Homo sapiens: one gene and its partners. The protein of the gene in region 4 interacts with the protein of the main gene of each other region in a biochemical or structural test. Each region holds a gene or a part of one and is shown on either strand. Other genes may lie near its edges.

Region 1 (2,411 bases), on a different chromosome or scaffold from region 4:
GCCCTTGCTGAGTTAGCACCACTGCCGCAGCACCCTGGCAGTGGGCTGTACTGGGGACTCAGAGTGTTTCTGGCTGGCACCATTCATGGACATGGCCCAGCTCCACCCACAGGCACACCCTTATCAATTCTGTGACCTCTTGGGACCGCAGGTTTGCCTCTTCTAAACATGGATTGTTAACACTCCCAGGAGGCTCCAGGATGACCCACGCATGTAAGTGATGCACCCACACTTTAGTCCCTGTCCCCTCAACGAGACGCCCAAGAGCGCCCTCTGCAGGCCCCGACTGTCTGAAGTCTCCGGCTTTCTTGCTGATTATACCTCATCTCCTTCCCTCTAGGGAGGCAGGAACACTTCTATGTACCTCTTTTGGAGAGGCTGGGAATGGGGAGAGAGATCAGAAGCCCCAGGACCTGGGCCCCAGCCAGCCCTCCCATCTCCAAGAGCATAGGCCCCTGGCACTGCCCGCTCCCAGGAAGGAAGAAACCCACACGACTAACCAGTGTCTGAGAGCATTTTTATTACGGGCAGCAGAACGGGATCGCAGCATCTTAGAAAGCCTATTCTCTGCCGTGGTGGGGAGTAGGGAGCAGAGGGAAGGACCCAGCACACTTCAAGAAACCAGGCGGGTGTGAATTCCTGAGTGAGCTTGGGGCAGCAGTGGGTGGCTGCTCCACAGCTCGCCCCTCCTCCAGAGGACCCAGCTTTTTGGTTTTGGAGCAGCCAGGGCTGTTCGCCAGCTTGCTCAGAGCCTACCCTGAAGGCATGGCTGGCAGGAGCAAGCCGCCCAGGCCCAAAGGAGAGACACCCACTGGCTCGAAAGCCAAGCCTCTGCTGACGGGGCCAACCCTGGGGTGCCAGTGCCAGGGCTGAGAGTCCCTGAGGGGCTGCCGGCACACAGGTATCCTCCCGTGATGAGCAGAGTGCAGTGAGGGGTTGACAGGCAGGCAGAGCTACGTTGGCAGAAATACGAAGCAATGGGACAGTTTCCAAGAATGGCAACATTTCTGGATCCAGAGAAGCAACAAGAACAAATGGTGGCTTGTTTGGATAGCTGACAGAATTTGGCATTTTATTACAAACTGGAGTGTGAGTGAAATAAAATCCATCATCACTTTTCTGCTAATGAAGACAGATGTGGAAACGCCAGCCCGGTGCCCTTGCCATCCCGGGCACAAGGGAGTCTCCAGAAACCTGCCCTTGGCGTACCTAGGACAAAAGAAGCCGAGTTCGTGTACACACCGCAGGGGCCATGCGCCTGAACAATGTTAGGCTGCCGAACCTGCCCATCACTCCCCACTTCTGCACAGACCAGACCAAGCTGTCTTACACGCCTGTAGGCCCCGGAAAGATCTCAAGTTATAGAATTAAAATTAAAACAAAAAGCAAAGTTTAAGTCATCTTCTCCACAGGATCTAGTCCCCCCCAAGAGCCAAGAAGGGAAGCCGCCAGTGGCAGAAGCGGGGTTGGTGACACACGGCATTTGGATCGTCGGCTTCCTTGGGGTGTCAGAGCGACATGGATTCTCTACTAGTGCGGGGACAATCCCATTTGCCTTGAAAAGACATTAATATTCAAATCTTTACAAGTTTATCTGACGATAAATTCTAAGGTCAATTTTTATTTCTACAAAAAAAGGCAGTCAAAACAATATAAAACACATTGAAAGGATATTACTGAGTGAGCTTCAAGTGGAGCTTGACTCTGCAAAGGCTGTGAGTCCGAAGGGAGAGGAAGTCCGTCTTGTTCCCGGGCTGGGCTGGCTGCTCTGGAGGAGGGGGTCAGCAGGGGCCCAGGCGACCCCAGACTGGTGCTTTAAATAGCCGAGTCCTGCTAATTCCAATCCTACAAAGGGTCAAAGTGTGCCGAGGGAGGGCTGTGGCAGGGCCACTGCACGGAGGAAGTGGAGAGCAAGCTCCGTGGCACATTCGGATGAAGCTCGGTGACAGATGAGCTAGGAGTTTCAAACGGACATTCTGGCTGTAGCTTTGCCTGCAAGGACCAGCAGATCTTCTACAATGGCTGCAGGGAGAAGTGCCAACCTGGGACCTCAGGAGCCTTTCTGGCGAGATTCATCACACACAGTGTGCACAGCATCCTCCTGACTAGCAGGCCCCCCATTTCGGGGCCACCACAGACCTGTGATTATAGGGCTTCTCTGTGCAGGCCAGGCCAGAGGTCAGTTACACACACTGACATCAGGGCTTGCCCAATTAACTGATGTTACTGTGGTAACATCAGCTGGAGTTTCACACAAGAACTGAGGAGAAGGACTGGAGGAGGGGTGTGGCTGTTTGTTTTTAAATTTTTTAAAAGGATGTTATAAACTGGAGTCAGGAGAATTTAAACCAACTCCCACACTGGGCAACAGTGCCACACATGCTAAGAAAAGCCACCAGGACCGCCAGGGC
Region 2 (3,500 bases), on a different chromosome or scaffold from region 4:
CGTGAGCCACCATGCCCAGCGCCATGCTTCTTGTACAGCCTGCAGAAGCTTGAGCCAAATTAACCTCTTTTCTTTATATATTACTCAGCCTCGGGTATTCCTTTACAGCAACACTAATGGACTAAGACAGGGGTATCAGTGTGTCCTGCCTGAAGGGGCTTCTTTCTGGGCTTCGTAGGACTTAACAGAGGAAGGAGGTAGCAGAGTCATGGAGCTGAGAGCTCCGGGGACCTGTCCCAGCTCTGCCTCGGGCTTGCTGTATGACTGAGCTTTCTCTGAGGATCAGTTTCCTCGTCTGTAAAATGGAGAAGCTGGACCAGAGGATTCCATGCTGTATCTTACAGTCAGTTGAGAAAGTCCCACTACCTTCTAAGTTCTAGGTTAAATAAAGGATTTTGCTACTTTATTTTGTTTTGTTTTTTTGAGACAGAGTTTTGCTCTTGTCATCCAGGCTGGAGTGCGATGGCCCAATCTCAGCTCACTACAACCTCCAACTCCCGGGTTCAAGTGATTCTCGTGCCTCAGCCTCCTGAGTAGCTGGGATTATAGGTGCCCACAACCATGCCCAGCTAATTTTTGTATTTTTACTAGAGACAGGGTTTCACCATGTTGGCCAGGCTGGTCTCAAACTTCTGACCTCCAGTGATCCACCCACCTCAGCCTCTCAAAGTGCTGGGATTACAGGTGTAAGCCACCGTGCCCGGCCTGCTACTTTTTAAAAAATTTTGAAAACTATTCATTTTTCATGGAGTGGTTAAAAGAGAAGACCCTGGAGTCCGCTGAATTCCACTCCTGCCACCTTATTCTGAGTGACCCCAGACCAGTTACTTAACCTCCTTGGTTTCCATCTCTGCAATTTTAAGAGGAAGACAACCTTCCTCACTGGATGGTTGAGAGGATTCAATATGACCTCATATGTCGTGTGCTTAAAACAGCACTTGGTCCACAGGAAACTCTCAAGGAATGAGAATTTTACTATTAGCTTCGAAAGACTCATCGAGCTGAATCCTTCCATGACCAAGATGTGACAAGTGGGGCCACTTTGGTGAACACATAAACTGAGACTGAGCCTTTGAGGAGGAATTTGTGTGCTATTCCAAAAGACCTTTCCTGGTTCTCCTTCCTCTGCCAGTCAACCATCCCCTCCTTTATGGCCTCACCAGGCACCTTCAGGCCCCCTTAGCTGATGACTTACATCAAGCTTTGGTCCTCCAGCTCTGGGATTCCTCCCAAGTATCATGTTTCTTCAGGACTCCTATATGGCTGGAAGGTCTGTGGCCAGTTCCTGGGGCGCACTTAACCACCTTGGTCTTGCCAACTATTGAGGTCCTCTGATTTCATAGTACTCTGCCAAACGAGACCTTTCCTAGGTTTTCCTATCACCCCTGCTTTCATCATCTCAAAGTTGGTCTCCTTGGAGATATAATCAGTCCCTGGAGCTCCTTTGAGCATCTTCTCCCGGCACCTGAGGCCTAGAACAGGTGTCCTCACTCTAAGCCAGGTAAGTGGATCGTTTCAACACAGTAACCCAAGGGACTTGACAGAGGTTCCCATGTTGACCTGACTCAGGCCTTTCTCTACTTTTCTGGACTATAGGTCAGTTTAAAGAGAAGACGACACAACCTAGGCCACTGCATTGTCAATAAAAAGTAAATCCTGCCGGGTGTGGTGGCTCCACCTGTAATCCCAGCACTTTAGGAGGCCGAGGTGGGCAGATCACTTGAGGCCAGGAGTTTGAGACCAGCCTGGCCAACATAGCAAAATCCTGTCTCCACTAAAAACACAAAAATTAGCCAGGCATAGTGGCACGTGCCTGTAGTCACAGCTACTCAGGAGGCTGAGGCAGGAGAATCGCTTGAACCCCAGAGTGGAGGTTGCAGGAAACGAACATCGCATCACTGCACTCCAGCCTGGGTGACACAGTAAGACTCTGTCTCAAAAAAAAAAACAAGTCCAAATCCTAAATGATAAGATGAATTGTTCCTTTGATATTCCAAAGAGCTTTGACTAACAAAAAGTTCAATGTCTTAAATTTTATTTCCAAGTAATGAAAAGTGTAGATTAATTTCTCAAAGTATCTTTAGTCACTAATAATCGGATGAAAAAAAGAGAGATCTTGCACTCTGAAAACTATTTTGGAATACTGCTTTCAGAGAGACTTTATCAAGAAAATACCAAATAATAAACAGAGAAAAATAAGAACAGTAGAAATGAGCTATTTGTGTTTTCATATGTAACAATTTTCTGAAATAAGACTACAGAAAAACAAAATACAATTTAGGTTTGCGGGAGCAAATTCTCCCAACTGTGAGAGCCTGGAAGTTTATCCCTACCCCTTGACAAAGGTCCAAGAAATCTTTATTTCTTCTTCTTTTTGATGCTGTTTGTCTCCTGAAGTTCTGTGGTGGGCTTGGTGGCTACCGGTTTAAGGAAGGGGTCTCCTACTAAGTCAAAAGTCCTTTGGCATCTTTATCAGAAGGTGAACCTCAGAAGTATCTGGATCTCAGAAGCAATCAATTCAGAGAGAAGCCCCCTCCAGCAATGATAACCTCCAGTAAAAGGATCTCAAGCAGGGAAAATTCTTGCCTAGTCCTAACCCTCCCTGCCCATGTCCCTGGCCTAATTTGGCCCCAATCCAAAGCCATGGTCCCCATGGATACTCACGGGTAGGAGGAGAGCGTGCCACACCAGGACATTGGCATCATCGCTGGACAGGTTCCGCAGGTATGGGGGAGGCTTCTTCTGAAGATCCTCCAGCTCCTGCAGGGGACACAAGTGAGTGGGCAGTTGGCCTAGTCCTCCTTATTTCAGCCCCCTCCCCCTGCCCCAGCAGCAAGCTGCCCCAAGTTCAAAACTGGCCATCTTAGGGGCAGAAGCCGGTAAAGTCAGAGCCTACATTTACTGAGCACTTAGTATGTATCAGGCATGGTGCTGGTGCTTTTTCTTTTTTCTTTTTTTTTTTTTTTGAGACAGAGTCTCGCTCTGTTGCCCAGGCTGGAATGCAGTGGCGCAATCTCGGCTCCCTGCAAGCTCCGCCTCCTGGGTTCACGCCATTCTCCTGCCTCAGCCTCCCGAGTAGCTGGGACTACAGACGCCCGCCACCACGCCCCGCTAATTTTTTGTATTTTTAGTAGAGACGGGGTTTCACCGTGTTATCCAGGATGGTCTTGATCTCCTGACCTCGTGATCCGCCCGCCTCAGCCTCCCAAAGTGCTGGGATTACAGACGTGAGCTACCGCGCCCAGCCGGTGCTGGTGCTTTAAGTGAATTTTCTGACTGTGGCCTCACCACAACTCTGGTACACCTAGGTACTAGGTGCAGGGAAAAATAGATCACTTCTCCCAGATATTAAAACTTGGGAGTAAGTGCTCTTAGGAGGCTTTTCTCCTGAAAGCAGGGTACTTAACCTCTGCTCTCTAGCCTTCTTCCTAGAAAGTCACTAGGTTCTAATTCCCTTCCTCTCTTCCTTTCTTCCTTCCGTAAGCATCGACTGAGCATCT
Region 3 (3,500 bases), on a different chromosome or scaffold from region 4:
GCTTTTCTTTCTTTCCAGGAAAGGAGAGTACTGGCTATCTGGACCTTGTGAAAAGATTTTTAGTACACTACTTAGCTTCTTGATTTCATGAAGAATTCATTTTGGTTTCTAATATACTGATATGGTTTGGATCTGTGTCCCCACACAAATCTCATGTTCAACTGTAATCCCCAACGTTGGAGGTGGGGCCTGGTGGGAGGCGACTGGATTATGGGGGTGTATCCTTCATGAATGGTTTAGCACGACCCCTTTGGTGCTGTTCTTGTGATAGAGTTCTCATGAGATCTGGCTGTTTAACAGTGTGTGGCACCTCCCCCATCTCTCTCTTGGTCCTGCTACTGCCATGTGAGACAGGTGGCTCCCCCTTTGCCTTCTGCCATGAGTAAAAGCTCCCGAGGACTCCGCAGAAGCAGATGCTGCCATGCTTTCTGTATAGCCCACAGAACTGTGAGCCAATTAAACCTCCTTTTTTTTTGAGACGGAGTTTCACTCTTGTTGCCCAGGCTGGAGTGCAATGGCGCGATCCCAGCTTCCTGCAACCTCCGCCTCCCGGGTTCAAGCGATTCTCCCGCCTCAGCCTCCCAAGTAGCTGGGATTACAGGCATGCACCACCAAGCCAGGCTAATTTTTGTATTTTTGGTAGAGATGGGGTTTCTCCATGTTGGTCAGGCTGGTCTCAAACTCCCGACCTCAGTGATCTGCGCATCTCGGCCTCCCAAAGTGCTGGGATTACAAGAGTGAGCCACCGCACCTGGCAAAACCCTTTTCTTTATAAATTATCCAGTCTCAGGTATTTCTTTATAGCAGTGCAAGAATGGACTGATACATATACTATACCTTCTTCTGTAAAGATAGTAACTCTTATTTCTATAACCTGTATAGTCTCTTCACTGAACTTTTACCTATATATATTCTTCATCAGTATTACTTTTTTTTTTTTTTTGAGACAGACTCTTGCTCTGTTGCCCAGGCTGGAGCACAGTGGTGTGATGTTGGCTCACTGCAACCTCTCCCTCCCAGGTTCAAGTGATTCTTGTGCCTCAGCCTCCCGAGTAGTTGGGACTATAGACACACACCACCCTGCCCTGCTAATTTTTGTATTATTGGTAGAAATCAGGTTTCACTATGTTGGCCAGGCTGTTCTTAAACTCCTGACCTCAAGTGATCCACCTTCCTTGGCCTCTCAAAGTGGATTACAGTCATGAGCCACTGCGCCTGGCCAGTATTACTTTTTCACTAGTGTTACAGCAACAGTTACTTTCACTTCTAAAAACATATAATCAAATGGCTTTATGGCACACTTATCTGCTTCCCTTCAGTTTTTTTCAGTGTTTTTGTTTTTGTTTTTTAAATATTTAGGTCCCCATCACGGACCTTCAAAGTAGAGTGAATACTGGGTCAAAATTTCTGTCCTTGAAGACAGACTATATGTTAAAGGAATAATATCATATACAGGATTAAGGCATTTCATAGAACTACTTGCCCATACATTCAATTTACAAAAAGGGACTCATTAAAACCTTAAATCTGAGACAGTTAATACAATCAAATTCAACAAAATGGCACTGCAACTATTTTAAAGGATAGCTATCCAGATAGAGAGAACCTAACAAATCAGACTTGTAACAGTCCTTATCATTTGGAATAGCTGAAAAAAAATCAACGCTAGGCAAGGGGAAGAACAAAAAGAGGTATGGCAATAATTTCAGCTATCTTGTGTCTCCAACACCTCACCCCACCAAACACACACCTCTCACACAATTCTACTTATCTTGGTCCCATTACTAGATTTACATCTCTATTGCTATTTGGTGAAGGAAGTGCAACCAATGGGACCCTCACCAGGCCAGGCACAGGTCCACAAACACTTTCTCAAGTAGCTCTTGAATTGTAAGGGGGCCTACCAAAAGAAAAGGGGACACTTCTCTAAAAAACTATTTCATTAAAGTTGTAATAACTTTAAAAAAATGTGGTTCTCTGGCATCCTGTTTTTATTTCTGCCTGGGACTCCAAAAATTTTAAATTAATGTCTCAGAGTTTTGTTTGCTTTAAAAAATTAATTTGTGGCCAGGAGCAGTGGCTCACACCTGTAATCCCAGCACTTTGGGAGGCTGAGGCGGGCGGATCACCTGAGGTTGGGAGTTCGAGACCAGCCTGACCAACATGGAGAAACTCCGTCTCTACTAAAAATACAAAATTATCTGGGCGTGGTGGTACATGCCCTATAATCCCAGCTGCTCAGAAGGCTGAGGCAGGAGAATGGCTTGAACCCGGGAGGTGGAGGTTGTGGTGAGCCGAGATTGCGCCACTGCACTCCAGCCTGGGCAACAAAAGTGAAACTCCTTCTCAAAAAAAAACAAATAATAATAATAATAATTTTTTTTTAAGATTGAGTCTTGACATCCAAGTGATAACATGACAAATACCCAACACTTTTGACAACTGTGCCTTTATCCCCAGTTTTTGGAGTACTTACAAGGAACCAGTTAACTGTCTGTTTTTGCTTCTTTAATCTTCGTAACAACAATGAAATATGTATTATTGTTCCTTTTCTACAGATGAAAAAACTGAGGAATACAGGGGCCAATGTGTCTCTAGCCTCATTTAATAAGAGGTGGATCTGAGATCTGAACACAGGCAATTGGATCTAGAATCTATGTTCTTTACCATGAAACTATGTTGCTTCCTGTCTAAATACATGCATTAAACAAATGGTAAATTATAAGCAGATAATTTCTACTTAATGGTTCAAATGGTAAATTATAAGCAGATAATTTCTACTAAAAATACAAAAATTAGCCAGGCGTGGTGGTGGGTGCCTGTAATCCCAGCTACTTGGGAGGCTGAGGCAGGAGAATTGCTTGAACCCGGGAGGCGGAGGTTGCAGTCAGTCAAGATCACACCATTGCACTCCAGCCTGGGCAACAAGAGCGAAACTCCCTCTCAAAAAAAAAAAAAAAAAAAAAAATCACACACCACATTTCACCACACAAATACCAAAACTAACATTGCTTGTCTATTTCTGGACACTCAACATACTTTTATATGTAACTCTTGTTACAGTGTATATGCCTTTTTTCTTTTTTCTGCTTTTCTCAAGCACAGTATTTTCCTATTTTCACAATATTTGTAAAGATCAATACTTTTTTTTTTTTGGAGACAAAGTCTCCCTCTGTCACCCAGGCTAGAGTGCAATGGTACCATCTTGACTCACTGCAACCTCCGTCTCCCGGGTTCAAGTGATTCTCCCGCCTCAGCCTCCTGAGTAGTTGGGACTACAGGCACGCACCATCACACCTGGCTAATTTTTTGTATTTTTAGTAAAGATGGGGTTTTGCCATGTTGGCCAAGCTGGTCTCGAACTCCTGGTCTCAAGTCATCTGCCCATCTCAGCCTCATAAAGTTCTGGGATTACAGGCATGAACCACTATGCCTGGCCAGGGTCAATACTCTTTTAAATGCATGTGCTGGAACCGATCTATTTTTTCCTCTACTGTAAG
Region 4 (3,500 bases):
GAATGCTTACAAATCAATAAGAAAACATAGACAATCCAATAGAAAAACGGGCAGGGGACTTAACAGGCATTTCACAAAAGGATATGAAAAGTGCTCAACATCATCAGTCATCAGGAAAAAACACATTAATGCCACATTCAGAGACAACACACCTAATAGGATGGCTAAAATTAAAAGACTGACATTTCCAAGTGTTAGCAAGGATGTGGAAGAATAGGAACTCTCTTACACTACTCGTGGGAGTGTAAAATGGCACAATTACTTTGGAAAACTGTTTAACAATATCAAATTGGAACACAGAGATGCCCTATTACCCAACAATTTCACTCCTAGAAAGGAATGCATAAGAAAAATGAATGTACACATACATTAAAAGACATACTTAACAATGCTCACAATAGCATTAGTAATAATATTCAAAATATTGGAAACAACCCATAATTTTATCAACTGTAGAATGAATACATAATTTGTGGTATATTCACACTCTAAAGCAATGAAGCAATGAAAAGGAATAAAATACTGCTACACACAAGACAGGACTCTCATACAAAAGAGTATGTGGTATAATTCTATTTATAAAAAGTTCCAAACAGAGAGAATTAATGTACAATGTTAGGAGTCAGGATTGTGGCTACATTTTGTGGTGAGGCACAAAGGGAACTTTTTTTGTTTTTTTGAGACACAGTCTGTGTCTGTTGCCCAGGCTGGAGTGCAGTGAAGCAATCTCGGCTCACTGCAGCCTCCATCTTTTGGGTTCAAGCAATTCTCCTGCCTCAGCTGGGATTACAGGCATGCGCCACCATGCTGGCTAATTTTTGTATTTTTAGTAGAGACAAGGTTTCACCATGTTGGTCAGGCTGGCCTCGAACTCCTGACCTCAAGTGATCCGCCCGCCTTGGCCTCCCAAAGTGCTGGGATTATAGACGTCAGCCACAGTGCCCAGCCAAACTTTCTTAATATGTGCAGTATGCATAGTGGTTACAAAGGTATGTTCACTTTGTGATACATACACGACCCAGAAACTCATGATTAATGTGCCTTTTTCTATGTGTTTTTTTCCTCCTATGGCTGACCTCCTAATTAACATGTGTTCTCTGGAAAAACATTTCACTCAAACAAACTTCACCTCATGTCCCTCGGTTTATATTTCCCTTCACAAACACAGGATAGATAAGGAACAGTCAGAGAGCTCAATCTATACAAATACAGTTATGCATCACTTAATGATCAGGATACATTCTGAGAAATGTGTCATTAGGTGATTTTGTCGTGTGATCACAGAGCACACTTACACAAACCTAGATGTTATAGTCTATTACACACCTAGGGTATACTGTATAGATTATTGCTCCTAGGCTACAAACCTGTACAGTATGTTACTGTAGTGAATACTGGAGGCATTTGCAACACAATGATATCTGTGTACCTAAACACAGATGTTTCATTTCTTTGGCTCTCCGATATCCTGCCAGTGCCTCACACTGGGTAAATCCAACCAGAAGCCAACTGCCTCTAAGGCAGTCCTTAGAGGTCAACCTCCTGGGGCACAGAGCAGGGTAGAGAAGGCTGAATGAGAGTAGATCTGGACATGCAAACAAAAAACATCCAGTATTGTATGTATAAAGAAGAGAACTTGGGAGTCAAAAGACCTGGCTCAGCTATTTTTTGTTATCATATCCTAGGTAAGATATATTCCTGAATCAGTGATCAGGACCACAAAATATGGATGATACCACTCACCTCAAATAGATGTTCTAAGAATAATATGAAATTGACATGTGTTAAACCTGCCTAACAAACCCGGCACCGTACTAAATGTTAGCTGAAATGGAATGTAAGATAACCTAGTGCTTTACAAAATGTGTACCTTATAGCAAGTGCTTAGTATTAAATGAATGAATGATGCTTTTCAGTTGCTATTACTCTGTGATCCTTAAGCCATACGGCCTTACTACATCCAGTTTTTTAACTGTGGAAAGACAAGAACCTTTTACCTTCAGAAGTGCTTCAGGATTCGTAAAACATGTTAAGTATCCTGACACTACAACTTCAAGAATTATACATTTATAATATCCCACCAATAAACATCTAACCATAAACACTTCAGCAGCATCTAATAGCCACCTATCTGCCTAAATGATTTACACATCATTAGAAAGGTATTCTGGAAATGAAGAAGGCAGGGCAAAAAGTTTGCATACACAGAAAACACTTACTTCCCAAGAGGAAAACCTACTACATGGTCAAATAACAGTTTTTGCTTCTGTTATTCAGCTAAAATTAGGTTTCTTCTGTCACTTCTCAAACAGCTTAAAATATGGAGAAAATCCAGTAATTTTGTGCTGATGGTCAAAATACTAAATGTAAGAGCAGTGTACCTATGTCTTCTAATTTTAATTTGTTTTTTAGATGTCTGACATCCAGATGTATGGTACTTCTAAAATAAGCATGCAATAAAAACAGCATGTGACAATATTTACTAGCACTGTTGAACAGAAAGAGGACTAAGTCTTTTTTTTTTTTTTTTTTTTTTCAAGTAAAGATGGAATAGGTACAGATAATTCCCAGCAGAGTTTCTACTGATCACTAACTTGGTCACTACAGAAGCTTAAAGCTATTCTATACTCAAGTGAAACTGTCAATAAAGAAGACAAATAAAAAATACTATGTTAAATGCTGTATTCTGTATTACAAAAGAATAACAAGCTATTAAACTTCAGCACATGCTTATGTTGAGAAGATAATAAAGAATAAAAAAAACAAATTTAACTTTAATGGCTATGTATTTGCATGTGAGATTGGGAATCCACGAGGAACATTTGCTTTGATAGCAAAGATATTTTTAGTATTGTCTCACTACAAGTCATTTACATTTCACTTTCTGTGCACTAGGCACATGTTTATATCCTGCTGCAGCACTTTTCCTTACTGATGTGTAAGACATAGTTCTATTTAATAAAGAGGCTTGCTATCATATGGGTGTGTGTGTGTGTGTGTGTGTGTGTGTGTGTGTACGTATAAATTGTATTTGACTATATGGCAATTTTCCAATGTAGAAATTTCAAAAGTTTTTAACGTGCTCAAATTCACATATCTTTCTGACTTTTGACTTCTACACCAGCCTTAGAAAGCCTTGCCCACTCTAAGATTATATTTTTAAAATCCCTTCACATGTTTTCTACTGGTAATTTGATAGTTTATGAATAAGTAGAGATCAAAATTTGTTTTCTAAATGGCTAGCCAGTTACCTCAACACCAGTTACTGAATAATGATCTTTCCTCCATGCCCCACCCCCTACATACATACTGATTTAATTTTTTAATTTCTTATTTTTGAGACATTTATTTATTTATTTATAAATTATTCCATTGCTCTATAAGCTTACCAAGTCTTCTTTTGGAGGATGAAACCTAATTGTTACATATTTACTTTCTGGTACTTTTCAATCTTTCTTGTGCAGCGGTGCCCAAACTTTTTGGTACCAGGACCAATTTCA

Evidence for each region.
Region 1: the proteins of RNF19A (region 4) and UBE2L3 form a complex in vitro, tested with the Homo sapiens proteins (3 studies listed by BioGRID).
Region 2: the proteins of RNF19A (region 4) and UBE2L6 form a complex in vitro, tested with the Homo sapiens proteins (one study listed by BioGRID).
Region 3: the proteins of RNF19A (region 4) and UBE2D2 form a complex in vitro, tested with the Homo sapiens proteins (one large-scale study listed by BioGRID).

The regions. Positions count from the first base shown.
Region 1 is NC_000022.11:21,622,124-21,624,534, reverse strand, and holds the end of UBE2L3 (ubiquitin-conjugating enzyme E2 L3), read right to left. Parts: 3' UTR 501-2,411; downstream 1-500. UniProt on the Homo sapiens protein: Ubiquitin-conjugating enzyme E2 that specifically acts with HECT-type and RBR family E3 ubiquitin-protein ligases.
Region 2 is NC_000011.10:57,557,673-57,561,172, forward strand, and holds part of UBE2L6 (ubiquitin/ISG15-conjugating enzyme E2 L6), read right to left. Parts: intron 2,761-3,500; coding exon 2,665-2,760; intron 1-2,664. UniProt on the Homo sapiens protein: Catalyzes the covalent attachment of ubiquitin or ISG15 to other proteins. Functions in the E6/E6-AP-induced ubiquitination of p53/TP53. Promotes ubiquitination and subsequent proteasomal degradation of FLT3.
Region 3 is NC_000005.10:139,616,839-139,620,338, reverse strand, and holds part of UBE2D2 (ubiquitin-conjugating enzyme E2 D2), read right to left. Parts: intron 1-3,500.
Region 4 is NC_000008.11:100,289,454-100,292,953, forward strand, and holds part of RNF19A (E3 ubiquitin-protein ligase RNF19A), read right to left. Parts: intron 1-3,500. UniProt on the Homo sapiens protein: E3 ubiquitin-protein ligase which accepts ubiquitin from E2 ubiquitin-conjugating enzymes UBE2L3 and UBE2L6 in the form of a thioester and then directly transfers the ubiquitin to targeted substrates, such as SNCAIP or CASR.